Linked DNA regions of Homo sapiens: region 1 is linked to region 2. The links come from fine-mapping of genetic effects on gene expression. A gene starts in region 2. The other region holds a variant in brackets. All regions are shown on one strand. Distances are between the middles of the regions. Region 1 overlaps DIPK2B (divergent protein kinase domain 2B). Region 2 holds the start of DIPK2B (divergent protein kinase domain 2B).

Region 1 (5,377 bases), 43 kb before region 2:
CAGGTGGATCACTTGAGGACAGCAGTTTGAAGCCAGCCTGGCCAACATGGCATAACCTTGTCTCTACTAAAAGTGCAAAGATCGGCCAGGAGTGATGGCACATGTCTGTAATCCCAGCACTTTGGGAGGCCGACGCAGGTGGATCACTTGAGGACAGCAGTTTGAAGCCAGCCTGGCCAACATGGCATAGCCTTGTCTCTACTAAAAGTGCAAAGATCAGCCAGGAGTGATGGCGCATGTCTGTAATCCCAGCTACTCTGGAGGCTGAGGCAGGAGAATCACTTGAACCCAGGTGGTGGAGGCTGCAGTGAGCCGAGATCGTGCCACTGCATTCCAGCCTGGGCGACAGAGCGTGACTCTGTCTCAAAAAAAAAATATATATATATATATATATTTATATAAAAATAAAACAGTACAGGTACCTTGTTCTCGGACAGGGCAAAAATCATAAGGGTGGTCTGTGGGTGACTGAAGTTTTGGGAACTACTGTACTGGCCTTAAGCCCCTCTTCTGCCAGCCGTGGGTGAATCTGTCTGGCTGGGGTAGCTATATACATCGTACAGATGTTCCCCAACTAACTGGAACCTTCCAGACAGCCTAAAACTGGCCTAGGGAAGCATGAAGCCCCGACCTGTCTCCTCTGCCTCCTTGTAAGAGGTCCAAACCTGTGGATTTGTAGATGAAAAGTGGGGAGGAATCCTGGCTAACCTTTTCTTGACTATTTCTTAAAGCAGCTATATCTAGAATGGCTATATCAGCACTTTATTGCTTGTTTTCCTTCTTTAAAAAATAAAGTCATCCCCATCTCTGATGGTTTTTTGCAGTCCTCTGCCCATTTTAACGCACATACTGCATTGTGAAGAACCCGTGCCCATTTGAGTTTCCCCTGCCTAAAGGGGACCTCTTTTTTTTTTTTTTTTTTTTTTTTAGACAGAGTCTTGCTCTCTTGCCCAGGCTGGAGTGCAGTGGTGTGATCTTGGCTCACTGCAACCTCCACCTCCCGGGTTCAAGCGATTCTCCTGCCTCAGCCTCCTGAGTAGCTGAGATTGCAGGTGCATCCCACTGTGCCTGGCTATTTTTTTTTTGTATTTTTTAGTAGAGACTGGGCTTCATCATGTTGGCCAGGCTGGTCTCGAACTCCTGACCTCAGGTGACCCGCCCACCTCAGCCTCCCAAAGTGTTGGGATTACAGGTGTGAGCCACAGCACCCGGCCCAGAGGGGACCTTTCTTACTGTGTACCGCGGAGGGAAGTCCTGGGCCTACTGTCGTTGTCTACAGGTGCGGCCACACAGCCATTCCCGGGTTCCATGACTTGCCCTTCCTGGGCAGAGCCCAGGGCTGAGTCCCAGCCCCATGCTCTCATCCCACGCCTCTCAAGAGCCAGGCCTAAAAGTAGCCAAGGTCTTTTCTGGGAGAAAAGATCTGTGAGAGTGCAGGACAACCCGCAATTCCTTTTCCTCTTCTAGTATTTCAAAGGCCAATGTCGCCAGGCAGGTTTTAGTGGGAAGAGTGTGGCCTTTGAGGGCAGGCAGATGGCTCTGCATTTGGGTTCTATTGCTGACGTTGGCTAAAAGTGACTTGGGCCAAGTCACTTCACATCTCAGAACTCCACTGAATCTCATCTGGAAAAGGGGACAATAATAATATTCTCAGGGGGTGGCTGTGAGCATTAAATGAGATAATGTCAAACCTTCAGCCAAATGCCTGGCACATAGCAGGTGCTCAGTGAATGAGAGCTGTTATTATGTATTCAATCATCATGCCTTTGGCCGGTGTTTATTAACTGTCTTTGCTGTGGCTTCTTCCTCCTCTACCTGCACCTTTTCCCCCTCCTATTCCTTCTCTTCTCCTCCTTCCTTTCCCTCTCCTCCTCTCCCGCCTTCCTTCCTCTTCCTTTTCTTAGTCCTCTTCTTCCTCCTTCTCCTCCTCACCTTTCTCTTCTTCCCTCTTTCTCACTCTACTCCCCCTCCTTTTCCAGCTCCTCTCTCCCAATTTCTAGTTCCCTTTGTGTCCTTTATGTGACCCCTGTGTCCTTACCCTTGAGGTCAGGGGTCAGTCGGAGTGATTGGGCTCCACATATTTTATGGGTGTTTGTTTCCATGATAAGTGTCTGTCTCTACCACTGGACTGGAAGCTGCATGAAGGCAGGAGACACCATACTTGTCTTGTTGACCAGTGTATCTCCAGGCCCTTAATGCATCTTCATTTATTTGACCATTCCCCTGTGTATGGACATTTAGGAGTTACTTCCTTTGTTTTCCTCTCCTTCCAAGCATAGATGCAAGGTACCTCTCTGGGTGGGTCATTCTTTGGCTATTTCTCCACTTCCTGAGCTCGGCCCCATCTGACTAATCTTTGAGGCACAGGTCAAAGTCGGCCTCCTTCACAAAGCCCTTCAGGGCCACTCAGGCAGTGAAGGTGGCTACTGTTCCCTCCTATCCCCATCCCGCTCCCAGCTCTGGGCTCCCACACCTGTTTCCTCTACAGCAGCCACAGCACTTTCACACTGCAGAAGCCAACACATGCCAGAAAGGTCCTAACACGGGCTAGTGGCCCAAGACATGCAGTAAAAGGAGGGAGAGAGCTCAATCCAGGGAGGCTTCTGGGAGTCCAAGATTGACCCCCAACCTAGAGGGCTTGCCAGGTCGCTGCATACCTGTAGGAGGATGGGGTGCGAGTTGACAGCCAGCGTGTAGAGCAGGCGCAGCTTGTCACGGTCGGTGAAGTGGTCCATGAAGATGCTGCCGGCGTCGGCCACCTCTGCATAGCGCCTGACCACGCGATCCAGGAGTCGCTGCGAAGGGCAGCGCAGGAGCGGGCTGGCCAGGCCCTACGCGCAGGTGGGAGAGAGGCGGGAGAAGA[A/C]GGGGGCGGGGCGCTAAGCTCTTGTGGGGGGTTAGCAGGAGGGGGAATGGGCAGATCCTGCTGTTGGGGGTGAGGGAGATCTTGAGGCTGGGGGGCCAGGTGGGGCGTGGGGAAAAGACCTGCAGGAGTGGGGATTGTGGGGTGGGAGGGGTTGGGTAGCTCTGCCCAGGCGGAGCAGGGGGCAGACCCCTGTGGCTGGGAAGAGGGGCCAGAGCACTTTTCGGGGGTGGGGTGGGAGGCCCCCTCCCCCACCACAGGCTACACTCGGGGCGGGGCCACAGAGACCCCGGGAACAGAGAAGGGAATGAGCTCTCTTGGGCAGCACGGCAGGAGGGCACTGGGCAGGCTGAGGGCAGGGCAGGGGAGAGGAAGAAGGGGAGAGAAGGCGGACTCCACCTTTCTCCACCCCTCAGCTGGCCATCTGAGTTTTGCATTACCTGTGTCTCTACCCACCATTGCACCCCCACCCTGCCCTTGGAAAGAAGGCTGATCCCAGGCTGAATTCATTCCCTGCCATGGGCTCTTTCGATTCCTTCTGCCATCTGACTTGGATATCACAACTATGAGGCTACACTTGAGCGTTTTTATATGCACCACTGTGTTCTTGGGATAAGACTTGGAGATACGAACCTAGGCTTTTTTTTTTCTCTCATGACTTTCTAGCCAGCCCCTACACCTTTTTCCCCATGCTGAACAAAGAAGAGCATGAACCTCCTGATAAAAAAAAATAGAGTTAAGAACAAGGCCCTGAGGCCAGCCTGCCAGAATTTTACCCGCTTCCACAACTACCAACTGTGTGACCTTGGACAAGTTACTTAGTCTCTCTGTACCTCCGGTTCCAGTTTGAAGTGAGGAGGACACTAAGAGATCATGAGGATCAAGTAAATTAATAGATGTTAATTCACATTTGGTACCTCATTGAATCCTCTCAGGCCCTCCACGAAGTAGGTGCTATTATGAACCTCATTGTGCAGCCAAGGAATTGGAATGCAGAGTGTAGGTAATGGTTGGAAAAATTGGATTCAGGATTTGAACCCAATGGGTTAGACTCTAATATCTGTGCCTTTTCCCCGTAATAGGCCCTGCCCTGCCCCCCTCTCCATAAACTACCCAGGTGGAGGCCATAGAAAATGATTTGAGGCTATGAGAAGGCCTCTGCTTCTGATCATCTTCTCCTACACAGCCTGAAATTCCACCATTAGAGATGATCATTGGGGAGCAGGGGGCGGGGGTGGGGATAAGTAATTTTTTCTCTTCTCCAAGAGCCAGTTCTTAAATGAAGGTATCTCTGGGAGAGATAGGACACTAATTGACCAGAGCAACAACAACAATAATACGTAATAATTATTGAGTGCTTACTACACAACAGGAGCTGCTCTAAGCCCTTCATAGGTAGTGTATTCTTTCATTTACTTCACAAGAACTTATTATTGCTCCACTTTTCAGATGGTAATACTGAGATGTAGAGAGATTAAGTCAGTTGCTCCAAGTCACATATACCTAGCATTAGAACCAAGACAGTACACCGGGTGAGAGGTAGGTAAGGATAGATAAAGGTAAATAAAGATAAGGGAGCCAGGCAGGACCTGCACCCTTATCTTTACTGGGAATGAGAGGATCACATCATATAACCCTGCAGTTAGCACCAGACTGTATTCAGACTGTATTTGTGGACACAAAGGGAACAAAACAGGACCTGCCCTCCGGGGTGTCTCTCAGCTGGGAGAGACCATCAGGTGCCCAGCAGTTAAGATGTGGCACAGGAAGGGCTATGACTGCAATGAGCTATTGGAGCCAACAGGAGGAGGGCCACATTACAACTTTCATGGGCCCTTAGTACCCTTGCTTTCACAGGCCCCTTCCTCCATGAAAAATATTACAAATTATATTTTACAACTGCATTGATATGAAGACAAATATATTAAAATTATACATTCAAACATTTTCTTGGAATTAAAAGTTTGCTTTTTTCTTCTGATTTTGAAAGAAATCAAAACATTTTTGTGGGACCCTGATATGGTTTGGATCTGTGTCCCTGCCCAAATCTCATGTGGAATTATAATCCCCAGTGTTGGAGGTGGGGCCTGGTGGGAGGTGATTGGATCATGGGAGCAGATTTCCCCCTTATTGTTCTTGTGATAAGGAGTGAGTTTTCATCCTTCCTCTTCGCCTTCTGCCATGATTGTAAGTTTCTTGAGGCCTCCCCAGCCATGCTTCCTGTACAACCTGAAGAACTGTGAGCCAATTAAACCTCTTTTCTTCATAAATTACCCAGTCTCAGGTAGATCTTTTTTTTTTTTTAATGAGACAAAGTTTCACTCTTGTCCCCCAGGCTGGAATGTAATGGTGCAATATCAGCTCACTGCAACCTCCGGCTCCCAGGTTCAAGCCATTCTCTTGGTTCAGCCTCCCAAGTAGCTGGGATTACAGGCATGCACTGCCATGCCTGGCTAATTTTTTTATATTTTTAGTAGAGACTGGATTTCACCATCTTGGCCAGACTGGTTTTGAACT
Region 2 (5,377 bases):
CAACAAAATGTTGACTAAGGGGTGATCTCTTGGTGGAAGAATTATATGTGATTTTATTTTGTGCTTTCTTTAATCAACCTTTCCTGAAAATACTAAAATAAACAGGCACGACTTTGATAATAAGAAAAAAGGTATTTATATTGTAGAGAAAAGGACTCTAAACAGGACCACCTCCCCAGACCCACTGACTGCCTCTCTCTGCCTCTTTGTGCTGAGGATGACCATTCTCAATGTGCAGAGCTATAAACCCCAATCTGCCCTGCCTGGTGTTTTCCTGCTTGTATCTGCACACTTCCCTTTCACGGGCACATGGAACATGAATTCTAAGGGAGATGAAGTAATATCCTGGACTCTAACGGAATGCAAACCTATTTAGGGAAATGCTTTCTGATTTTGGCTAGCATCTGCCAAATGCTAGTAAGAAAAACTTCATTTATTGCCCTTTGGTGAATATGCAGTCATCCTAGAGCTCTTCCTCAGTTGAATCCTTAAATTTCTCTCCCTCCTTTTAAAAAATATGTCTGCCTTCTTATTGCCTCTCTCCAAGGAATCAGCATTGCTTCACCTGTGTTCTTGGTCCTCTTTATCTCTTTTCCTAGGCGGAAAACCTTGAGTTCACATCCAACATCTGCATATTTATTTCCTCTCGCATAGTGTTGGTCAACAGGATGACTCTATAGCTGAACTGACCTGTATCCTTCCTGTTCTACTTTGTTCCCAGTGACTTGTGTCCTGGACTATGGCAACTGGTCTCACAGCCCCTGCCAACACCACCAGTCCGTCCTGTCCACTTTGCACGAGCTCTTCCCAAATCACAGGTCTCATGTTGCCCCTCCCCAGCCTAACACTCTCAGCATGGCCTGCAGTAGAGATTCCTCAATCAGTGGTCTTTCAAAAATGCCTTTAAAAACGCTTAATATGCCTTTAAAAAGGCTTAATAGGAAAAGTCCACACCAACTCCATAAAATACCTCACAAAAGAAGTTTAACATTTTTGATTGGTATTTCTATCTATTATTTCTATTTAGTAATTTGGTTGAGTAAGCAAAGATGTCTTTGATTAATACAGATTGCAAATAAAATCATTGTTAATTAATGCCTTTTGTTTGGTCACCAAATCTTAAAAGCGTAAGTTAGGTCCTTTGAGGAAGATGGAGGAGAAAGGGCATATATATGACAAAGGGTCTTTGGTACTAAAAAGACTGGAAACCACTGGTCCACAAGATTAAGGCCCCAATTCCTTGGCATGGCAATTAAAGACCCCCTGCCCCATATATCCCTTCAACCTCCTCCTCTGTCATGCCTCCACATACACCCCATGCTCTAGCTAAGCACCTCTCACTTCTTCCCACACCTTTGCTTAAGATGTTACTTCCACCTTAAGCCCTTCACTTCCCGTTACTTTTCAGCTCATCCTTTAAAAGGCTTTGCTCAGAATACCTTCTCCTGGGGAAGCCCTTCCCCAGTTCCCATTTGGAATTAATGGAGCTCCTGGAGGTCCTTTACACTGCCCTGCATCAGACAAAGCCTTATTATTATTATTTATAACATGACCCCCTTGTCCTGACCTCCAGGAAGGCAATGACCAGAGTTATAGTTGCTGTCACCCCAGTACCTGCTAGAGTTTGGCTGTGGTAAAGGCTCATGGACTGTGTGTTGATAGGCTTAAATTCCAAGTGTGATGCCATTCTTTGCTGAGAGCCATGTGCATTGCAATTTACTAAGCTCCAGTTTTCCTCTGATCAAGGCAATCTCTCACAACAGAAAGCTGGCTCAGAAACTTTGGAGCAAACCGTCCTGGTTTGAATTCCACAGCTGCTACTTATTCGGTGGTGACCTTGTGCAAGTTACTTAATCTTTTTTAAAAAATAAATTTTATTGTGTATATTTAAAGTATACAACACGATGTTGTAAGATACATATATATAGTGAAATGGGTCCCATCATCTCACAGAGTTACCCATTTCCCCCCACTGAAGTCACTTTATCTGGCTATGTCTCAGCTTACCACCTCAATAATGGGGGAACACCATTAACTCTCACAATGATTTAAAATAGGTGTCACATTGTAGGCTTTCTATAAATTTTATTTCCCGCCCACTGTGAGAAATGAACTTGATAAACTCAACAGTCCCAGGCTACTCCATTCATAGGAAAGAAAACTTCAAGCTTTCAGTTCAAAAGGAAATGTTGGATTTAGCATTTAGGGCTGGAATTTGGCTTCACATCTTGCCCTCTTACCCACCCCAACTTCAGACCATTACCACTCTGATTAAATGGATTTGTTTCAGCTCCCACCCATATTACATCCTGATTCCTTTTCAACAAATTCCTGGACATCTTCACAAGAAGGGAACAGAATTTTGTGATTCAGAGTTATTTGATTGATATTCTGACCTTATTTCTTCTTTAAAGAACTTCTTGCAAATAGATGTCCCGATGCAGGCATTGCATTTATCAAGACCGAGGAAAGTCCTTCCAAAATTGTAGCTGGTTCTGACTTGGGGCACCAGAGAAGAAAGGGAAGAAGCTGGCAAGGAGAAAGAACAGCTCAGGGCTGAGACCCACAGCAGCAGGGCCAGCCAGCCAGGGCGGAGGGCGGCAGCCTCAGGCCCCAGCTGGGGCTCCATCTTGGGCTCTGGGCTCCAGCTGCAGCCTCTGGCTGTCCACTCGAGGCTGTACAGAGGCAGGGCTTGGCCAAAGAGGAAGCTGTCAGAGGGGGCTGGCTTCTGGGTGCTGACCCCATCCCAGCCTCCCAGGTTTCTCTTTGAGGATGCTGAGGAGCTTGGGGCTAATGAGGCTGGGGAGGAGGTGAGGAAGTCAGTGGAGGATGCTGATAACGCTGTTTCCAGAGTTACTCTTCCTTTGCCGGGGGTGGCTGCTTCAGGCTGGGGAGGGGCTCGCTGGCAGATTTCGGGAAGGACAATTGTCAGGGCTTCCCTGTGTGGTCCTTTTGACAAACACAGGATATCCCGGCAGGGCAGGAAAGGTCCATGCAGGATGTGTGTCCAACCTGCGTTCCACCTGGGAGTTTCAAAGGATCCTGAAAGCCTCCACCCTCCACTGTTTTAATTCCAGGTTTATCTGTCCCTATGGATTACACGTGCACCCCAATTTTTGACCCCTCTGTGCTAGGTCATTTGTCCTGCCCCTTAATCAGCCCTCCTTCCCCCACTTTTACCATATTTGCCTGTGAAATAACTAGAGGTTAGCTTGCTTGCCATTAACTGGCACATTTAGCACTGATTTGAAAGCTTTTTGCTGCTTAGGGAAGAGAAAACCTCAGGTTAGTCCATCTTCTCTTGCTGGTCTGAGAACAAGAGACCAGAAAGAACCCGGTGGCCTCTGTGGCATGATGAGGGGAGCACCAGAAAGAGCCCTCTGACAGCACACAGCTGTGTCTATCCCTCTCCCACAGACCTGAAAGCTTCTCTTCCTTTACCAACTTGCTTCACTTCTCGGGGTGGCTTGGCCGGATTTGGTAGGATTTAACTGCCCCAGGATTGCCTTCCTCAGGATACCAAGATAAGGTCCGCAGCATGGAGTAGATGGAAGTGCTAATTTGGGAGTAGAGAGAACCTCTGAGAACCAAATCAGGGAAGTCAGGCTGCCTCACATTCTGTGAGAGGGTGGAGGTGGGGAGCGGGGCACGGTTTGAAAATATGAGAAAGTGCATAGGAAGATGGGGCTGGGGGTGAGGAAAAGGGAGGTAAGAGGGAGTGGGGATTGCCTCTGGACAATTGACAAGTTTTGCTAAAGATTGGTGGGAAGAGCAGGTAAAGGCAATTTTCTGATGATGAAGCACGTGCTTATTAGCATTTGTATAGCTTCCTCAGTAAAATGTCTGGTCATGTTTGCTTTTTATTGGTGAGTTTTGACGCTTGTTTATATATTCTAGATCCGAGTCCTCTGTTGGATATGTGGCTTGCAAATATTTTCTCCCCAGGGCTAACTTGTCTTTTATTCTTTTAACAGAGTCTTCTGCAGAGTGAAAGTTTTGATTTTGAAGTCCAATTTGTTAATTTTTTCTTTTTGAATCATGCTTTTGGTGTCAGGTGTGATAAAAGAAAAACTTAAGCACATTTAAATTTTAAAGAGTTTATTTGAATATTCAGCGATTCATGAATCAGGGCAGTATCAGACTGCAAACATTCTGCTGGGAGGGGCAAGAAAGGAAACTTTTATAGTGTTTGCAGAAGCAGGACAAAGAAAACAATTTTTATTGGTTAGAGTGGAAAGTCCCTAGTTAGAGATTAATTGGTGATTTTTTTGATTGGTACAATTTCTAGTTTAAATTTACTATTTACATTAGGCTTTGGTTTGTTCACACAGGAATTTAAAGTGCCAGAGCCACCTCAGTCTAATGGCCTTCCAATTAGAATTTTAAAACATAATTCATCCTTTTTGATCAGCCTCTCATTTAAGAGATATTGACTAAAACTTGGGCATAAGCTCCACTCTCTGTGACCATCATGGCTAAGTTGTCCTTGTCTCAGTGTGAAACTCATAAGTCACAACATCAAGCTCATTGAGGAAAGATTCCTTTTGTTGTTCATCTCATTTTTGTTGCTCTAATTACAGTGAGATCATCTGGCATACCGTTGATGACTGTGAACACACATTTAAGACCCTCAAGTGAATGTAGTTCACCAGGGAGATTATGATGACTACCAGGAGGATAATACTGAAAGACTGCAGTATGTTCCTTAGCCAAGGTCCTCACAAACCAACTCAACTAACATTTCTAGAGAAACAAAAGAAAACCAAAGGTCAATGACTAGAGCAAACTATAAATTCAGTCTGAGTCCAGAGGAAATTTAGTTAACAAGATTGCTAGATTTGAGCTTGAAACATATTTTTCTGGTTTGCAGTTTGAATGTCTCTGGTTATGGTACTGAGGGTTTCAATGATCTTCCTGAGTGGTCCACATATCAGGCATAAGGGTTGTCCTCAGAAGTCACATCAAGTTGTCTATAACTGCCTGGCAGGGTTTCAGGAACAGAGCACATCTTGTTCTGAGTGATTTCAAGTCTGAAAAATGGGAAAAAATTGGATTGGAGGAATAAAGATGAATTCAGAATTCAGTCCAGTCTACAAATAGACAATAAAACTCAAAAACAACAAATATGGCTACAATCTACTATCAAAAATTATGCACAGATCTTTTCAGACATTACAGGGGTCCTCTGGAATGTCCCAAAGTTAGTTCTAGGTCAAAAAGACTTAATTTAGAAGCTTATTTTGGGAAGTTTGTAAAAAATATCAAAAAGTCTAAAACACTTGATTAAATAGGATCATTAGTCATTATGAAACAATGAGAGGCAAATACAGAAAGGTTATATAGCTGTAAAAAAACTTAGCTCTTTTAATGTTGAGAA

What was found. PIP is the estimated chance that this variant, and not a neighbour inherited with it, causes the effect. A credible set is the group of variants that fine-mapping cannot tell apart.
Region 1: its variant is the best candidate, but not a certain one, in a credible set for the expression of DIPK2B in gastroesophageal junction (GTEx, PIP 0.88).

The regions. Positions count from the first base shown.
Region 1 is chrX:45,155,058-45,160,434 of GRCh38, forward strand. DIPK2B (divergent protein kinase domain 2B) reads right to left here. Exons shown (of 5, transcript NM_176819.4): 3 at 2,658-2,831. Among named protein-coding and RNA genes, the nearest start is that of DIPK2B, 43 kb to the right of the region's middle. The variant A/C (reference allele first, on the strand shown) is at 2,864.
Region 2 is chrX:45,198,198-45,203,574 of GRCh38, forward strand. DIPK2B (divergent protein kinase domain 2B) reads right to left here and starts at 2,679. Exons shown (of 5, transcript NM_176819.4): 1 at 2,397-2,679. The coding sequence starts at 2,629.